2 separate regions of the Homo sapiens genome follow, and region 1 is linked to region 2. The links come from fine-mapping of genetic effects on gene expression. Tissue or cell type: fibroblasts. Region 2 holds a variant in brackets; the other region holds the start of a gene. All regions are shown on one strand. Distances are from middle to middle.

Evidence for each region. PIP is the estimated chance that this variant, and not a neighbour inherited with it, causes the effect.
Region 1: it holds the start of BAMBI, and the variant in region 2 is fine-mapped to the expression of BAMBI in fibroblasts (GTEx, PIP above 0.99).

What each region holds. Positions count from the first base shown.
Region 1 is chr10:28,673,255-28,681,424 of GRCh38, reverse strand. BAMBI (BMP and activin membrane bound inhibitor) reads right to left here and starts at 3,904. Exons shown (of 3, transcript NM_012342.3): 1 at 3,452-3,904; 2 at 1-167. The coding sequence starts at 3,527. RefSeq lists silencers at 3,007-3,151, 3,877-4,436.
Region 2 is chr10:28,731,222-28,739,418 of GRCh38, reverse strand. No RefSeq gene overlaps it. Among named protein-coding and RNA genes, the nearest start is that of LINC01517, 8.3 kb to the left of the region's middle. The variant C/T (reference allele first, on the strand shown) is at 4,218.

The sequences.
Region 1 (8,170 bases), 58 kb after region 2:
TTGGCAGATGTCTGTCGTGCTTGCAAGAGAGTCCAGGCAGCCATGGGTGAGTGGGGAATTTGAGTTCTGAGGATCAAGAAGTCTAGAGAAGCAGGCGCTGAGCTCAGATTTACACATATAACCAGTGGCTACACAGTGGGCAGCATCACAGTAGCATCGAATTTCACCTGAAAACAATGAGAAACCACCTCAAACTCTGCTCCAGAGACCAGATAAAGCAACTATTTAGGCAACTGCTAAATCCCAAATTCAAAGGCATGAACTTTTAGATCATCCAAGCTGAGGGCTCCAGTCTACAGAGCCTGGAGAAGCCCTTCCTGCAGCCAGTGCGTAAGTTTCAATCCAGTTAAACGTCATTTTGGCAATGTAGTAATCCCAATAGCAGGTTTCTGAGGAGTTTAGAGTCATTTTAAAAAAACTTTTGCTTTTTGAAGGAAATAGTAATGAGTATAATTTCTCCTACCATAAGGTATAACACATTATTTATTCATTTTAATCCTACATGACCATACAACATAAAAATGTTAGGCTTTTTGATTTTGTCAGTATAAATATTTGATCGGAACTACTGAATTGTTTACTATCCCACAGGACTGCACCAAGAGTTAAGAGCTTTAGCTAACACCTTATAAAGTTATTAACTAGAAACACAACAATCTAGAAACTGCCCAGGTCAGGAGGTTTTAAAACTATGAAACTAGGCAGCTATTTGCAACCTCTCTAGAAAAGGCAAACTTTTTGCCTATAAAGATCTTTTCATGCAGAGGAGCTTTTAGTCAGTATATTGTAAAACAGGAACTAGGCAGTTTACAATTAGTGGTTTGCTTGCCAAAGTCAATTTCTTTCAGCCCAAATGGAAAGTCATAAAAGGTGGGGGGAGTATAAAACTGCAAGGCTAACTTCTCCTCCTCCTCCTCACAAGTTTTACATGTAATTCGACATGTGATCTAAAAGGGGAAACACTGAAACTGAAAATCCTCTGCTGGTTGAATGAAAAATCCTTAAGGAAACCTCAAATTTTCTACAGGAAGTGATTAAAAGTTTCCTTTATAAAAACTTATTTTGTGAGTTGCATGGCTCCGTTCACATTTTGTCGCAGGGCAAGATTGGAGGCTTTAATATCAGTTTCTCGTTGAAATAATCTGGGTCTTCAAGTTCTCACTAATACAATATCCACCTAGTGGACCCTGGTCGCTGTCACATGCCACAGCGAGTAAACTAAACTAATGCACACGCCTCTTCCAGTTTCCCGTCTGAAGATCCGAAACCTCCACTCTGAAATTAAACACCGGGATCTGCTGTTTTACAAACCTCTTCCCACCCTTACCTTTATTCTTCCCCCTCTCTCTGAACGCCCCAGTAAGGTGTCTCATTTAATTATCTGTCCAAATTCCAGACCACGGTATTGTATGCTCAGTTTTCACCGGACGCTGCTAATGCTTCGGTTCTAAGGAAAACCAGCCCGCTAAACACAGATCTTTGGCAACCCTTAACAGTCCAAAGCTAGGGGTCTTGCTCCTAAATCTGCACTGGTTGGGCCCAAGTTCCTTCTCTGCTTCAAGTAAGAACCTTGCTTTGCAGAACCACTTCTCTGCTCTTTCTCCTCCTCCCTCCAAGCTCACTTTATTTTCCACATAAAGCTCACCAGTCTTCTGGGGTGATGACTACATATCCCTAGTTTGACAAATTCCATATATAGATTTAAAGTATAAATAAAACAGATTAAAAGCCCATTTTGACCCTATTAGCTTCAGACCTTGTACAGAAAAGGAAGACTGAATACAAGTAAAATGCTGCTTAAATGTTTATGAGAGCCTATTTTCAATGACCTAAAAACAGCCTAATAAAATTTTGACAGGTAACTGGGAAAGTTCTAACTACCTTTTTTTTTTAATTGGAGCCACATTTTAAGCAAGGAGAATGGACTTTTGTACCACTGTATTAAAACTATATTTCTGTCGTTCATAAAGTTTCTTCCTGTGGCATGCAAAAGGCCAGAAAGGGGACTGGTATTTTGAAACTGTGGAACAATGCCCTTCTGTTTCTGTCCCCTTCTCGTTACTGTATGTAGTGATTAAACAAAAATGTCTGCTTTAGTCAAGATGGCTACAGGAGAGACTGCTGGCTTCTTTTAAAGCTTTTGAAGTCCGCAGCCGTCAGAAATCTCTGATCCCCTAATTATATCATTATCAGGCACATAGTTTCGGTATCTGTGACTTCATGTCAGCCTCAGTCCCTCCCTGTTCTGCCCGCCTTTGATAGGGCCAGGAGGCTCCCCTCTGCAAGCCACAAGGGCTGTTATTTAGGGTTAATTACACCCTTCCTTCCAAAATAAATAAATACTGTAGCACATCATCCTCGCTGGGCTAGCTTATGCTTTAACCTCATGCCTGCTACATAGCAATTAAAGAGAAGTAGGGGGCTGCAAAGACTAAACTGCTTCCTACTTAAAAAAATTATCTGTTCACAGAACAGTAGGTAGATTTCACAGCAGGGAGGTGAGGAGAACCTTGAAATTCGGAGACAGTTCGGGTTATTTCTTTCTAAAAGGTGAAAGCCTGCAGAGGAAAGAAGAAACTGACCCGCTGCCTTTTTTTTTTTTTTGGTCCTGTTTGTAAAATATGAGGTGAGTGGCAGTGAGACGCTGACAGAGCCTACTCCTCCCGGCTGCTGAAAAGCAACACAACACACACTTCTGCACACCTCGGACACCTAAACTCTCAGGGAGACCCACACACTCGCTCGCACACAGAGAGATGTACGCAGAGACACACTCACACAGAGACTCAGATGCACATTCAGAGATACAAAGACACTTAGAGACAGACACAGAAATGCATTCAGAAAGACACACTCAAGATCAGAGATACAGAGACTCACACATTCAGAGACACAAAGACTCAGAAAGAGACACAGAAATGCATTCAGAGATACATTCAAAGAGACACAGAGATACGCTGAGTGATACAGAGGTTCAGACACACTTTCAGAAACACAACGACACTCAGAGACACAAAAATGCATTTAGGGATACTGAGACTCAGAGACACACTCACAGAAATACACCCTGAGGCACTCACACAGACACGCTGAGGGCACGCGGCAGCTACAGGCCAGGATCTGCGATTCCTCCCGGCCGCCCGAGCCCCCAGGGTGCGGAAGCGGCGGCGTCGAGGCCGAGACTCCGGCCCCGCTCCCCGCTGGGCTGCAAACGCGCCGCTCCCCGCAGGCAGAGCCAGGAGGACCCTCTGATCAGCGCCTGCCCTTAGATCGGAGTCCGCATCCACGCGCCAGGCCACCGCCGCGACTTCTAAGAACACAGCAACTTGTCGCGACCTGCGGCTCCGGCGCAGGAGGGAGCCTCGCCTGCCGCTAACAAAGCCTCTGCAGCCGGCTCCAAAGCCCCGCGGCGAGGACGGGACCCCGGGCCCCGTGCGCCCCCGGCACCCACCTTTGGTGAGCAGCACGGCCATGGCGCAGAGCTCCAGCTGCAGCCAGATGAAGATGTAGCTGGAGTGGCGATCCATTGACGCCCCGCACGGCCGCGGCGCCCCCGCCGGCTTCCGGAGCCCCGGCTCGGCGGCAGCCTACGACCCCCGGAGCGCGCAGGGCATGGGCCCTGCCCGGAGCGGCGGGCGCCGTCAGCGGCGGGGCTGGGTTTCGGGCCGCTGCCGGAGCATGGAGCGCGGCTACAGGGCGCGCCCAGGAGCCCAGAAAAGTTTCCCGGTCCCCCGTCGGCGGCCACTGGCTCCCTTGCCCCGCTCGACTCTAGGGACGCACGCTAGCCCCGGGTCGGGAGTGGGCTCCCGGCCTTCAGTCCCCGCTAGCGGCCGTTCTCAGCGAAGAGAGTAGGGTCTCCACAGCACGCAAGGGTATCCGCCGCAGCTCCCGCCCGCGCCAGCCCAGGTCTCTCCGGCTCCGCGCCGTAAATAGCGCCCCGCGCCGGGAGCCGGCCTGCACCGCCCCGCCTCGCCCCGCCCCACGGCGTCCGATTGGCCGCCGGGCTCCTGTCAATCCGCCCCGCAGCGGGGGGCGGGCCCAGACGCGAGCGCTGGGGGACCTGCCCGGCGGCTCCGAGCGGCGCCGGCGTCTGGGGCGCCCGGCTGGGGCGCCCGGCTGGTGCGCTGCCGTCTCCCGCGCTCCCCCTTGCGGAGGCCTGCGCGTCAGTGACCTTCGCGAGGCGCCGGGGGAGCCCAGCCCCGGGACCGGCTCGGGAACCCGCCTCCGAGACCCTGACGGCTCAGCCTCGGGTGGTCAGCGTTCCCCAGCGCGGGGCTTCTTTTGGGTGCCCCCCGAAACACGCAGGGGGTCCGTGTGGTCGTCCTCCCCGGCCGCACTGCGTTTTCTGGAACCCCCAGGGGCGAGTGACAATGCCCCGGCCTGTGCAGGTGGCGGAGGAGGGTTCGGGTGGGAGCCCGGGGGAGGCGGCCCAGCGCTGGGGTCTGCATTCAGCCTTCGCCCCCCACCCCCTCAGCGTGTCCGCCTCGAGCTGCCCGCCATGGGATCAATAAAGCCCAGACAGACTGACTGTTGATCCGTTAGGAGCCGCTAGGTTCTCCCGGGTACGCGGGACGAGTAGCGGGCTAGAGACACTTAACGAAAATTAGCAAATCCAAAAGCACCCGGCGCCAACGAGACGACACTGGCCGAGACTGACACTCAATTAACCACCCCCCAAACAATGGCTGGCAAACACGCCGGCTGACCCTGATCAATATCAGCCCCGCAGTGATCTCCTCCTTGAGATGCTAATTCATTTATTAGGGATCGCGGGGCTGCCCTTCCCAAGGTACTCAAGGTGGTCTTGCTGTAGTTTTGTTTCCCCCTCCGCTTTGGAAGGAATTAAGGTTAAAACTCATTATCTGAGGGAATGTTCTTTTATCCTCTCCCTCCAAAACCTGAGATGAACAAAAGTCGACCATTTGCAAAATTCTTCTTGAGAATCTGCCAGAGCTTCCCTACCGGATATGTCAAAAGGGGGTGGGGGGTGGGGAAGGAAAGAAAGAGAAGCACATTTCATGCTAAGGTGAGAATTATAAAGACAAATCCTTTAGGACTAGAGTGCAGACATGAGCTTTGAGACTAAGAAAAATGTACATATGTCTTGAGGACTGAAAGTCAAGGCGAACATATCTCAAACGCCTAACCTTTTAAAGTTGTTGAAAGTCTGCAGAGCTGCAGGATGTAGTTAATGAAATTGTCTTTGAAAAATAATGTTTATGTGCAGAAAAATAAAATAATTTCATAAACTGATGCTCAGACCATTACTTCTCTAGATCAAAATTGCATCTAAAAGGAGAGAAGGAGAAATCCAGTAGAAGTTTTAAAAGAAAATTAAACTGGTTAGGGCACCAGGTAAACAGCAGGTTTCTCAGAAAAGTTTCTCAAGGGGCGTGCTGACAAGGCAGTCCTGGGGCCGAGTTTGATTAGAACTTCCTGGCTACTAGAACCTTGACAAGTTAACAATTGTAAGGGTTTTATGCAGACAAGACTTTTTTTTTTTTTTTTTTTTTTTTTGAGACGAGTCTGGCACTGTCGCCCAGGCTGGAGTACAGTGGCGCGATCTCGGCTCACTGCAACCTTCCGCCTCCCGGGTTCAAGCCATTCTCCTGCCTCAGCCTCCTGAGTAGCTGGGATTACAGGCACCTGTCTCCACGCCTGGCTAATTTCTGTATTTTTATAGAGACGAGGTTTCGCCATGTTGGTCAGGCTGCTCTCGAACTTCCGACCTCGTGATCCGCCCGCCTCGGCCTCCCAAAGTGCTGGGATTTACAGGCGTGAGCCACCGCGCCCAGAGGACAATACTTTTTATGTAATGATTACACTCTCTTTTAGAGTCAATTATTAGCTAAAAGGAAACTTTCAGGGTATGTTAGTTCAACCTGGCCTCCCACCGTAGGCGAGGCTTGCAATGTCTGGGGGTATAAAGATGTCAGAAACTAGATAGTAAATCTCAAAACAATGGAGCTGGACAATAATGGAGATTTATGTGCATGATGTTACAATGCCTAAAAGAAAGAGGTTAACTAGTCTAGGAAGGTAAAGAGAGCCGGTAAAGTCTAGAAGCAATGACATTAAGGATTGGAAGAAGACCATTACAAGCACAGAGGACCACAGGACTTAGGCATGAAATATGATTGTGTAGGTGAGTAGGAGTGGTAAGCAGCGAACAGGTAGTTGGGATGACAAGCAAGTCTTTGTGATTGCAGCATAAAATGTGAAGAAGTGAACAGAGACGTATCAGAAATGAACTATACTTCCCTTTGATACAGATAAATATTTAATGGAAGAGGTCTGGGGAATGTGTTGGTGAAAGTTGCATTCTAGTAGACACTTTCTGAGTGTCTCCCAGCCCAAGTCAGAGAATGTCCCTTTTCCCGGAGTGGGCGTTGGCAACCTGATTAGGAGACTCTGATCTCCTAATCTCTGGCCATAGCTAGTCACATGACCCAGGTTAGGTCAGTTAGATTCTCTCTTCTGTGTCTTTGAGCAGACATGCTGCTCAGTCCCTTGAGGTCATTTCACGGGAGACATAAAAATTTTGCTTTGGGGCAGCTGTAGTCCACCTGTCTGCAGAGGAAGAAAAATAATGAAGATATGCAAAGTGGCAAATACATAAATCCAAATGGATTTCCAGGCACTCAGCGTCACTTCTTGTCCTTAGGTTAATTCAGTAACCTTAATAAAGTCCCCTTTTTACTTAAGGTTCTTTTCCTTGCAACCCAAAGAAACCAAACTAAGATATTTGTATTTTATTGAATTAATGTTGACTTTGAGCACTCCAGGTTGTATATATTTTTTTGTTCCAAGTCCAATTCTGAATAAGAACTTGGGATCCATTTTTTAGACAATGATTTCAACTATTTTGTTTTTATTATTAATGGGCAAACTTTCTAAATGACCAGAAATTAAAGAGAAACAAGTCCGCACTTTATCTAATGGTTCTGGGGAAGACATGGACTTTTCAACTAAATGAATCAGAGTGTTTGAATCAATGTAGAATATCAAAATCAGTTTAGGGATAATGTGTCAATCATAAGGCCATATCAATAGTTGAGAGAATAGGCAACAATTTTAATTCAATTTAACATTCTTAAGGAAAATTGCTTCTCTAGAGAATTTTACTTATGCTTTGCACATAATTCAGTTATTACTTTCCTACATGTAGGTTGATAAGTAGAGGGAAAAAAAATAGTACAATCTACTGTCCTTTTGAAGTTTAAAGCAAGAAATGAAATCAACGACCAAAATTCTTTTTACATCTACAAAGGGATTCCGAAAATACCTAGGAACAAGCTCTCTATACCCAAGAACAGAAAACTGATTCTAGACCTAACTGAAACCGTTAAACAGTAGAATAGTTTTTTATTACCTTCAAACAGCATTCAAGATATAATTTATCCATGGGAGATATATATGTATATATATAGGCGCGAGCCACCATGCCCGACTAATTTTTTAATTTTTTTGTAGAGATGGTGGTCTCCCTATGTTACTGAGGCTGGTCTCAGAATTCCTGGGCTCAAGCAATCCTCCTGCCTGAGCCTCCAAAAGTGCTGGGATTATAGGTGTGAGCCACCATGCTGGCCGTATAGATGTTTTAAAGATTTTAAATGATGTCTTTGAAATTATAGGCTAAACATGTAACTAAATGGCACTAAATTGTGAATGGGAGAGTAGAGAGTTACTTGCTTTTTTTTGCTTTTTTAGAGACGAAGGCCTCCCTCTGTTACTCAGGCTGGAGTACAGCGCTGCAATCATAGCTCACTGTAGCCTCGAACCACTGGCCCCAGCCTCCCAAGTAGCTAAGGTGCTCCCCACTGCATGGGGCTAATTTCTATACTTTTTGTTGAGACAGAGTCTCCTTATGTTGCCCAGGCTGGTCCCAAACTTCTAGCCTCGAGTGACCCTCCCACCTTAGCCTCCCAAGTAGCTGGGATTACAGGTGTGAGCTTGACTATCTTATCAGAGAGTTATTTGTGTTTAAGGGATTCATAGCAGAATAGGAGCTTATTTGTTAGGTGACCAGATAGAACAAAGGAAGATTATACAATCTGAGAAAAGCGCATCAGAAGTTCTTCCCTTAATACCAAGGATAAGAACAAGAATTCTGTTCATTGATGACCTCACTTAGGGTGTACTCTCTTCATAACCTGTGTCCATAAATCTC
Region 2 (8,197 bases):
ACTGTGAAGTTAGGGTTTCAATTTTGTCTGCCTATTAAGCTAGGTTACAGTTCATCCACAAGGACTCAAATATAGAAGTATGGAGTCCTTCTCAGGCCATATTTAGTTTGCTTTAAAAGCAGGCTTTGACACAGTGACCATTCCCTTTTTGAACCATGCTCTCCCTTGGCCTCCATGATGTTGCTCTTCCCTGGCTCTCCTCTGAGCTCTCGGGCTGTTCCAACTCAGTCCTCTGCCTTCTCTGTCCATGTTGAGGCTCTTCCATGTTCTGCCTTTAACTCTTTTCTATCCACATCTCCCGGGGATTTCACCTATATATCCATAGATCTCTTATCACCTATGCTGTGACATTAAACCATCTCTCTCCTGCCCTTTCCTGAGTACAACATGCCCCCCAAACTCAACGTGCCACAAACTCATGATCTTCCTAGCCATCTAGATCTGCTGCCCCTCTTCTTGTGTCCTCAAGCTCAGTCAAGAACACAAGTGCCATCCATTCACTCTGGAGGAACCTGGGAATCATTCCAGCCTCCTTCATCTTCCCAAAATGCCCCATCCAATCAGGGACCTGATTCTGCCTCTTCTGCATCTCTCGTGTCCCTTTCCCCACTCTACCTCTGCAGTGAAACAGTCTGACTTTACACCTTTGTCCTCTCCCTCTTGAATCATTGCAATTGTCTCTCAACAAGTCTCCTCTAGTCTCAGCAACCACCATCCTTCTCCACATGTCACCAAAGCAACAATTCTAAGGAGCAAACCTTGACCTGCTCTTCCACGGCCTGGGATCCAAGTTTATGTCTGCATCGGGAAGCAATGAGTGGGTAGATATCTGTCATAAGATAGTAGATCTTACTGAATTTGAGTGGGAGGGAAAGTGGTGAATCAGTCCAACCATGAAAATGAAAATTATTCTAGATATTTCAAACAGAGGGCATTTAATACAGGGAAGTGGCTGCAAAAGTGTTGGAAGACCTGGGGGCTCAGAAGACAGTGAGGAAGTCCAAAAAGTTGGCCTGAAGGGGGCAGTGTTCCTGGAGTCCAGGATCTGGCAGAAGCTGGTGGAAGGTGGAACCACCGCAGGGACATCTTCTGGGATCAGGAACCTAGAAGAGACATGATTACTATTGGAGATGCCAGAAAGAGAGGACAAAATGTGCCTTGATCTCTTCCTACCACTTACCCTCCAATCTCATGCCAGTGCCTCCCATTGGCCAAACCCAGCCAGAAGGCAATTATGGAAATTCTGGAAAATGATTTTCCTACAATACAGACCAGAGCAAGGGAAGGGTAGAGAATGAATCTGATAGCAAACAGGCAAATGACTGGCATAAAATTGTAGAACATTTATACATCCACAGGGTTTTTTCAAAGATAGAAAGCTCAGTAGTCAGACCATCTGATTCCACATGTGATCGCTGGAAACCTTCAACTTCTTCGCCAGGCATGGCTTGCTCAAACTTAGCTTTTTAGAAACTCTTCAAATTAGTCAGCTCATGTATTTGTCCCCTAAATACAGAATGAATATTTCTTGGCTCAAATTGTTTCCTTCTGTCTAGAATAATGATCTTGCTCTTTCTACTTATTTAAATCAAACACATCTTTGGACTCTCAGTTTTTTCTTTTGCTTTTGTTTTTTGTTAGGGATGGCATCTTGCTCTGTCACCCATGCTGGAGTTCAGTGGCACAATCATAGCTCACTGCATCCTTGAATTCCTGGATTTAATTGATCCTCCTGCCTCAGCCTTCCTATTAGCTGGGACTACAGATGTGAGCCACCATGCTCGGCTAGAATGCTAGTTTAATTCCAAACTCTTTCACTAGCATTTCCTGACAACTACTATCGGGATAGGGTTGAAAAGTGTTATCAATTCTAGCGAACCATGGTATGGTTGAAAAGTTACAGGATACACAGCTAAAATCTATTCACTATAAGGTAAGGGGTGTCATGGATGAGTGGTGACTATCTAGACCAGTGGTGCCAGTGATGAAAGCATTTACCAAGACAGTTGTAGGTAAAGAAAGGCAGATTTATTAGAGGAAGTAGAAAAATACGTTGCAGGGGAGCAACAGGCAGGCCAGCAAAAAGGAGCTGACTGTCAGGAGACAAAGGCTTGCTGGGGATTTTAAACAATAGTGTTTGTGCTTGTGCTGAAGAGGGCTTTATGCAGTACTGATATTGCCAAGGTTGCAGCGAGCTAACTTGCATTTTTCTATCAGCTGAGGGTCTGGTGATAGCTGAGTGCAGGAAGATTGTAAGTTACTTGTGCAGGAGGGTTATGTGTCTTGGATCATGAAGAAGGGCAGATTTGTAGCTTATCTGCTTCTTTTTGCATTCCTTTGGTCCCACCAGCCCAACTCCTTTTCTCTAATTAGAACTCCACAAGGGGAACTTCTGGTGCTTCCTCCATGAAAAGGATGACCATCAAGACATTAATATAACATCTGGCCTCTCACCGTCTCTTATTCACTCTGTCTAAGAGGAGGTAGAAACACTTTTCTGAGAAGAATATACTGGGCATGAAACCATCATCACAGGGTTAACAAGAATTCCATGGCAGGTTCTGGACAGAAATAAGGTTACAATTAAGCATTCATCAGGCTGCACTTTGCCCACTTCCATGTAACTGAAAGTCACATAGCACCAGATACAGACCTTTTGCATCCCCACTGTTCCTGTAGATAGGATCTCTGATGATAGAATCATAAAGCTTTTGTTTAAGAATTACTTAAGATGCTTTTCAGACCCTGCATTCTAGTGAAACGGCTGACACAAACCAGTTTGAAGACCCCACAGAGGAACCGAGTCCGCATGAAAATAGCTTCTTCATCACCCCATCCTATGACTTCACCCTGCACTCTTCAACCCATGAAAAATCCCTACAGCTCAATCCACTCTAAACCCATTAAAATCCCTGGCCCCCCAGCCACGCCAGCATAGTGAGACCCCTATCTCTACAAAAAATAAAAAATTAGCCAGACATGGTGGTACACACCTGTAGTCCCAGCTACTCGGGAGACTGAGGTGGGAGGAAGGCAAGACCTACGGAGAGAGAGAGAGAGAGTCCTAACTTCCATTTTTATATATATAATATATATATTATACATATATGCAAATATAGGAATATAGAAATATATATAAATGCAAGTCCTATACTTGCATTTATGTATATTCCTAGCCCCAAACTCCTTGGGGAGGTGGATTTGAGGTTTCCTCCTGTCTCCTTGTTCAGCGGCCTTACGATTAAACCTCTTTCTCTGCTGCAACCCTCAGTGTTGGTATACTGACTTGCTGCACATCGGGCAATGTACTTCTTATGGTCATAGGCATTCTTGGATCAGCTACACCCTTTTCCCTCTTGGAAGTGAACTTAACTGCAAGCACCAAGAGTCCTCTGTTTCTCCATGCTGTAAGTTTTACCTGGTCCAGTGCCTACATGAGTGTGGGGTAAGTATGTTGAATTTTGGAATTACTTCACAGGTCCATTTGGTTCTTGCAGTGAGCTATGGCTTCCAATTTAACCTTGAACAAAAATAAAGGAGAACTGTGGCCCATCTGCTACTCTGGACCTGTCAGGTTTTTCAGAACTTGAGCAGGAAAAACAGGTGCCATTTATCAGCACTCCTCCTCCCACAAGAAACTCTAACATGTGATTTTCATCTCAGGTTCTTATGCATAGATTCCTTGATAGTCATGTTTTGGGTTTTGTTTGTTTGTCTGTTTGTTTTGTTTTGTTTTGTTTTAGAGACAGGGTCTCACTCTGTCACACAGGTTGGAGTGCAGTGGCACAATCATGGCTTCCTACAGCCTCAAACTCCTGGGCTCAAGCGATCCTCCTGCCTCAGGATCCTGAGTAGTTGGGACAACAGGTGCATGCCAGCATGCCTGGCTAATATTTTCTTTGTAAAAATTGTTTATAGAGACAGGGTCTCATCATGTTGCCCAGGCTGGTCTCGAACTCCTGGCTTCAAGCAATCCTCCCAGTTCAGCCTCCCAAAGCACTGGGATTAGAGGCATGAGTCACACTTGGCCAATATCCACTTTTTGTTTCACCCCTCTATCTCTGATCTGGTTCTTCCTGGACTTTTGCTATGACATGGCATTTCTCTATTCTGAAATGTCAGCAAAGTGGACCCTGATCTCCACCCCTGCTAAGTTTGCTGGATGGCTTCAGATTCTGCCTCCCTGCTCTTTGCCAGAGCAACCAATACTATTGGGA[C/T]GACTCATCTCCAGCCCACAGCGATCTCTAATTCTTTTGAGCACTTGGTGAGGCATGATAGCATAGTTGCTAAGAACATGGGCTCTGTAGCCAGACTGCCTGCATTTGAACAGTTTCCCCATTTAACAGCTGTCTAGCCTTGGGCAAGATACTTAAACTCCCTATAATATGGCATTACATAATAATTGATGCTCTTAAACATGACATGAATCATCAAGCAAAGTTTAAAATCTGTCCAGCATGCTCTGTTTAAGAAAGTGAAAAATATGTAACACATTCTACGAATATTTTTGTCTACAAAAGTTTACAAAATGTTGGTGCTTAAAAGGCTAAGCTTTGATTATCTCAAAACATAATTTAGAAAGGATGCATCACTTCCTGACACAATTGCATAACTGAAGCATGAGTATTAAAACTTTTGGGAAGGTTGGCTGGGTGCGGTGGCTCACGCCTGTAATCCCAGCACTTTGGGAGGCCAAGGCAGGCAGATCTCCTGAGGTCAGGAGTTCAATACCAGCCTGGTCAACATGGTGAAACCCCGTCTCTATTAAAAATACAAAAATTAGCCAGGGGTGGTGATGCACACCTGTAGTCCCAGCTACTCAGGAGGCTAAGGCAGGAGAATCGCTTGAAACCGAGAGGCAGAGGTTGCACTGAGCCAAGATCAAACCACTCCAGCCTGGGCAACAAGAGTGAAACTCCGTCTCAAAACCAAAAAAAAAAAAAAAAATTTGGGACGGCATCCTGGTAGAGTGGAAGAGGTCCATATTTGAAAGCAGGCCTGAGTTTGAATCCCATTTCTGGCACTTGCTGTGTAAACACATGTAAGTTGTTTTATCTTCTTAAGCACCTGTATCTGTCTGTGAAAATGGGGATTGAAATTACTACCTTGCAAAATCATCATGAAGCTTAAATGAAATAATGTAGGTGCAAGAGGATACATGGGCAGCAGCTCTAGGGGTGAGGTGGGGTTCTTCAACAGCCACTACCCCAACCTACTGGGATTTGGACTATGAGTGCTGTGAGTGGAGTTGGACAGAATTCTTCTGCCCACTCACCTATTTGCCCCAGGAATTTACATAGGAACAGGAAGACTCTTGCAGAGAAAGAGATCTTTTCCCCTTGCTATTCAAAATCATTTAAATATATCTGATGGGCTTAACAGGACAATGAGGTCCCTGAGAGAGAATTCTCCCTGAGGGCAGAAGGAGAAGCACACAGGTAACTCCCTAGGTAAGGGCTGAGGAACAAGATGAGCATTGACCCTGGTTCATGACTTAAATCTGTCCTGATTTAGCCTGGTGACAGGCTCATGCCTTGAGAAGAGGCTTTGTGAATGATTCTAAAGAGCTAATGAAGCCATATGATATGCACAAAGGACATCCAAAGCAGTGCTACGAGGGAAATGTGTAGCCTTAAATGCATACAAGAAGAATTGAAATAAATAAAGCATCTAAATCAGGAAAAAGCAGGCAGAAGAAACAGTAAATAAAAGCAGAAATAAATTTGAAAGAAAGAATTATAAAACTAATAAGTATATAACAGAGCTAATCATAGGAAAAAGCAGGCAGAATAAACAGCAAATAAAAGCAGAAATAAATTTGAAAGAAAGAATTATAAAAATAGTAAGTATATCAAAGAGCTAATCATAGGAAAAAATACCCTTCTTTTCCATACCTGTTGGGTGTGAATGGATTACATACTCAAAAATTAACTTATGAGATGATAGATAGATAGATAGATAGATAGATAGATAGATAGATAATAGATATAAATGATAGATTAGATAGATAGATAGATAGATAGATAGATAGATAGATAGATAGATAGATAGATAGATGATAGATAGACAGACAGATAGATAGAATAGTTGTAGAGCTGGGGACCCACCCTGTCTTAGCTCCCTAGAAAGAAGTCTGTAGTAAGAAAGGTGGGTCCTGTCTTATTCCTGGGCACCATACTGCTGTCCCCTGGGCTCGCCAGCAGAAACTCATTTTGTCAGGAGAATGGCTCTCTTGGGTCCCCCACTTAATGGGACAGCACACCCAACTTCCCTCCACTTTTTTTTCCTCTCATGCCCACATCCAATCTATCAGCAAATCTTTTTTTCTCTACTTTAGTAATAGATCAGGCCAGGCTCAGTGGCTCATGCCTGTAATCCCAGCACTTTGGGAGGCCGAGGTGGGCGGATCACCTGAGGTCAAGAGTTCGAGACTAGCCTGGCCAACATGGCAAAACCCTGTCTCTAGTAAAAATGCAAAAAATTAGCCGGGTGTGATGATGGGTGCCTGTAATCCCAGCTACTTGGGGAGCTGAGGCAGGAGAATTGCTTGAACTCAGGAGGCGGAGGTTGCAGTGAGCCAAGATCAAGCCACTGCACTCCAGCCTGGGCGACAGAGCGAGACTCTGTCCCAAAAAAAAAAAAAAAAAAAAAGTATAGATCGGAATCCAACACTTCTCACACCTCCATCCCAGCCACGCTGATCTAAGCCTTCTCATCTCTCACCCGGATTATTAACAGCCTCCTAACCAATCTTTCCATCACCTCTTGCAGTTTTTCTCTCAACACAGCAGCCAGAGTGGTCTTTTTATAACAGGTCAGTCATGGCATTCCTCTATCCAAAATCCCCCAGAGGCTTCCCACCTCCTTCAGAGTAAATGACCAAGCCCTTTCGAGGCCTACAAGGCCTTTGATAATCTACCTCGCAACACACAAGCATCCCACACCAACTGCGTCCCCTACGCCTCTCCTAAGCACTTACTGAGCTCTGAAAACCGGCCCCCCTCACATGTTCCCACGTAAATGCCTGTGCCTTTGGGGTTTCTTCCGCCTGGAACTGTTTCACCCCAGACATCACACAACTCCCTCACATCCTTCAGCTCTTGGTGAGACACAGGTTATCAGCGAGGCCTTTCCTGACCACCTACTTAAAATAGCAACCTCACTCTCCTGGCTACACACACGCCCAGCCGGTCAACACTTTCTCTGCCTATTTCCCTCTGCAGGACTTATAGACTTACCAGTTACTGCATTTGCTCACTCATTTTTTAGCTCCTTCCATTAGAATATAATTTCCTAGAGGCAGAGATTAGATGTGTCTTGGTCACTGTGTCCCCAGTGCCTAGAACCATTTCTGGCACATTTGAGGTACTTAGTAAATTAAGAGAGTAAATGAATGAATGAATGTATCTGTGGTGCTGAAAGCAAGAATACCACTGAGGCTGAGCAAGGTTGCTCACGCCTGTAATTCCAGCACTTAAGGAGACCCAGGCAGGAGGATCATTTGAGCTCAGAAGTTCGAGATCAGCCTGGGCAACATGGCGAGATCCCTGTCTCAACAGAAAAATACAAAAATTAGTGGGCGTGGTGGTGTGTGCCTGTAACCCCAGCTACTTGGGAGGCAGAGGTGGGAGGATCGCTTCAACCCAGGTGGCAGAGGTTTCAGTGAGCTGAGATCCATGCCACTGCACTCCTACCTGGGTGACAGAGCAAGATTCTGTCACAAAATAAATAAATACAACAGAAAGGGAAAAACAAAACAGATCTTAAGCAAAGTCCTTACCCTTCAAAATGAGTCTTGTAACAATAGAAACAAGAAGACTGGGCGCAGTGGCTCACGCCTGTTATCCCAGCACTTTGGGAGGCCAAGGCTGGTAGATCCCTTGAGGCCAGGAGTTTGAGACCAGCCTGGCCAACATAGAGAAACCCCATCTCTACAAAAAATACAGAAATTGACCAGGCATGGTGGTGCAGGCCTATAATCCCAGCTACTCGGGAGGCTGACACACAAGAATTGCTTTAATCTGGGAGGCAGAGGTTGCAGTGAGCCGAGATTATGCCACTGCACTACAGCCTGGGTGACAGAGTGAAACTCTGTCTAGAAAGAAAAGGAAAAGAAAAGAAAAGACAGAGAGAGAAAGAGAGAGAGAGAGAAACAGAGAGAGAAAGAGAGGAAGAAAGAAGAAAGAAAAGAAAGAAA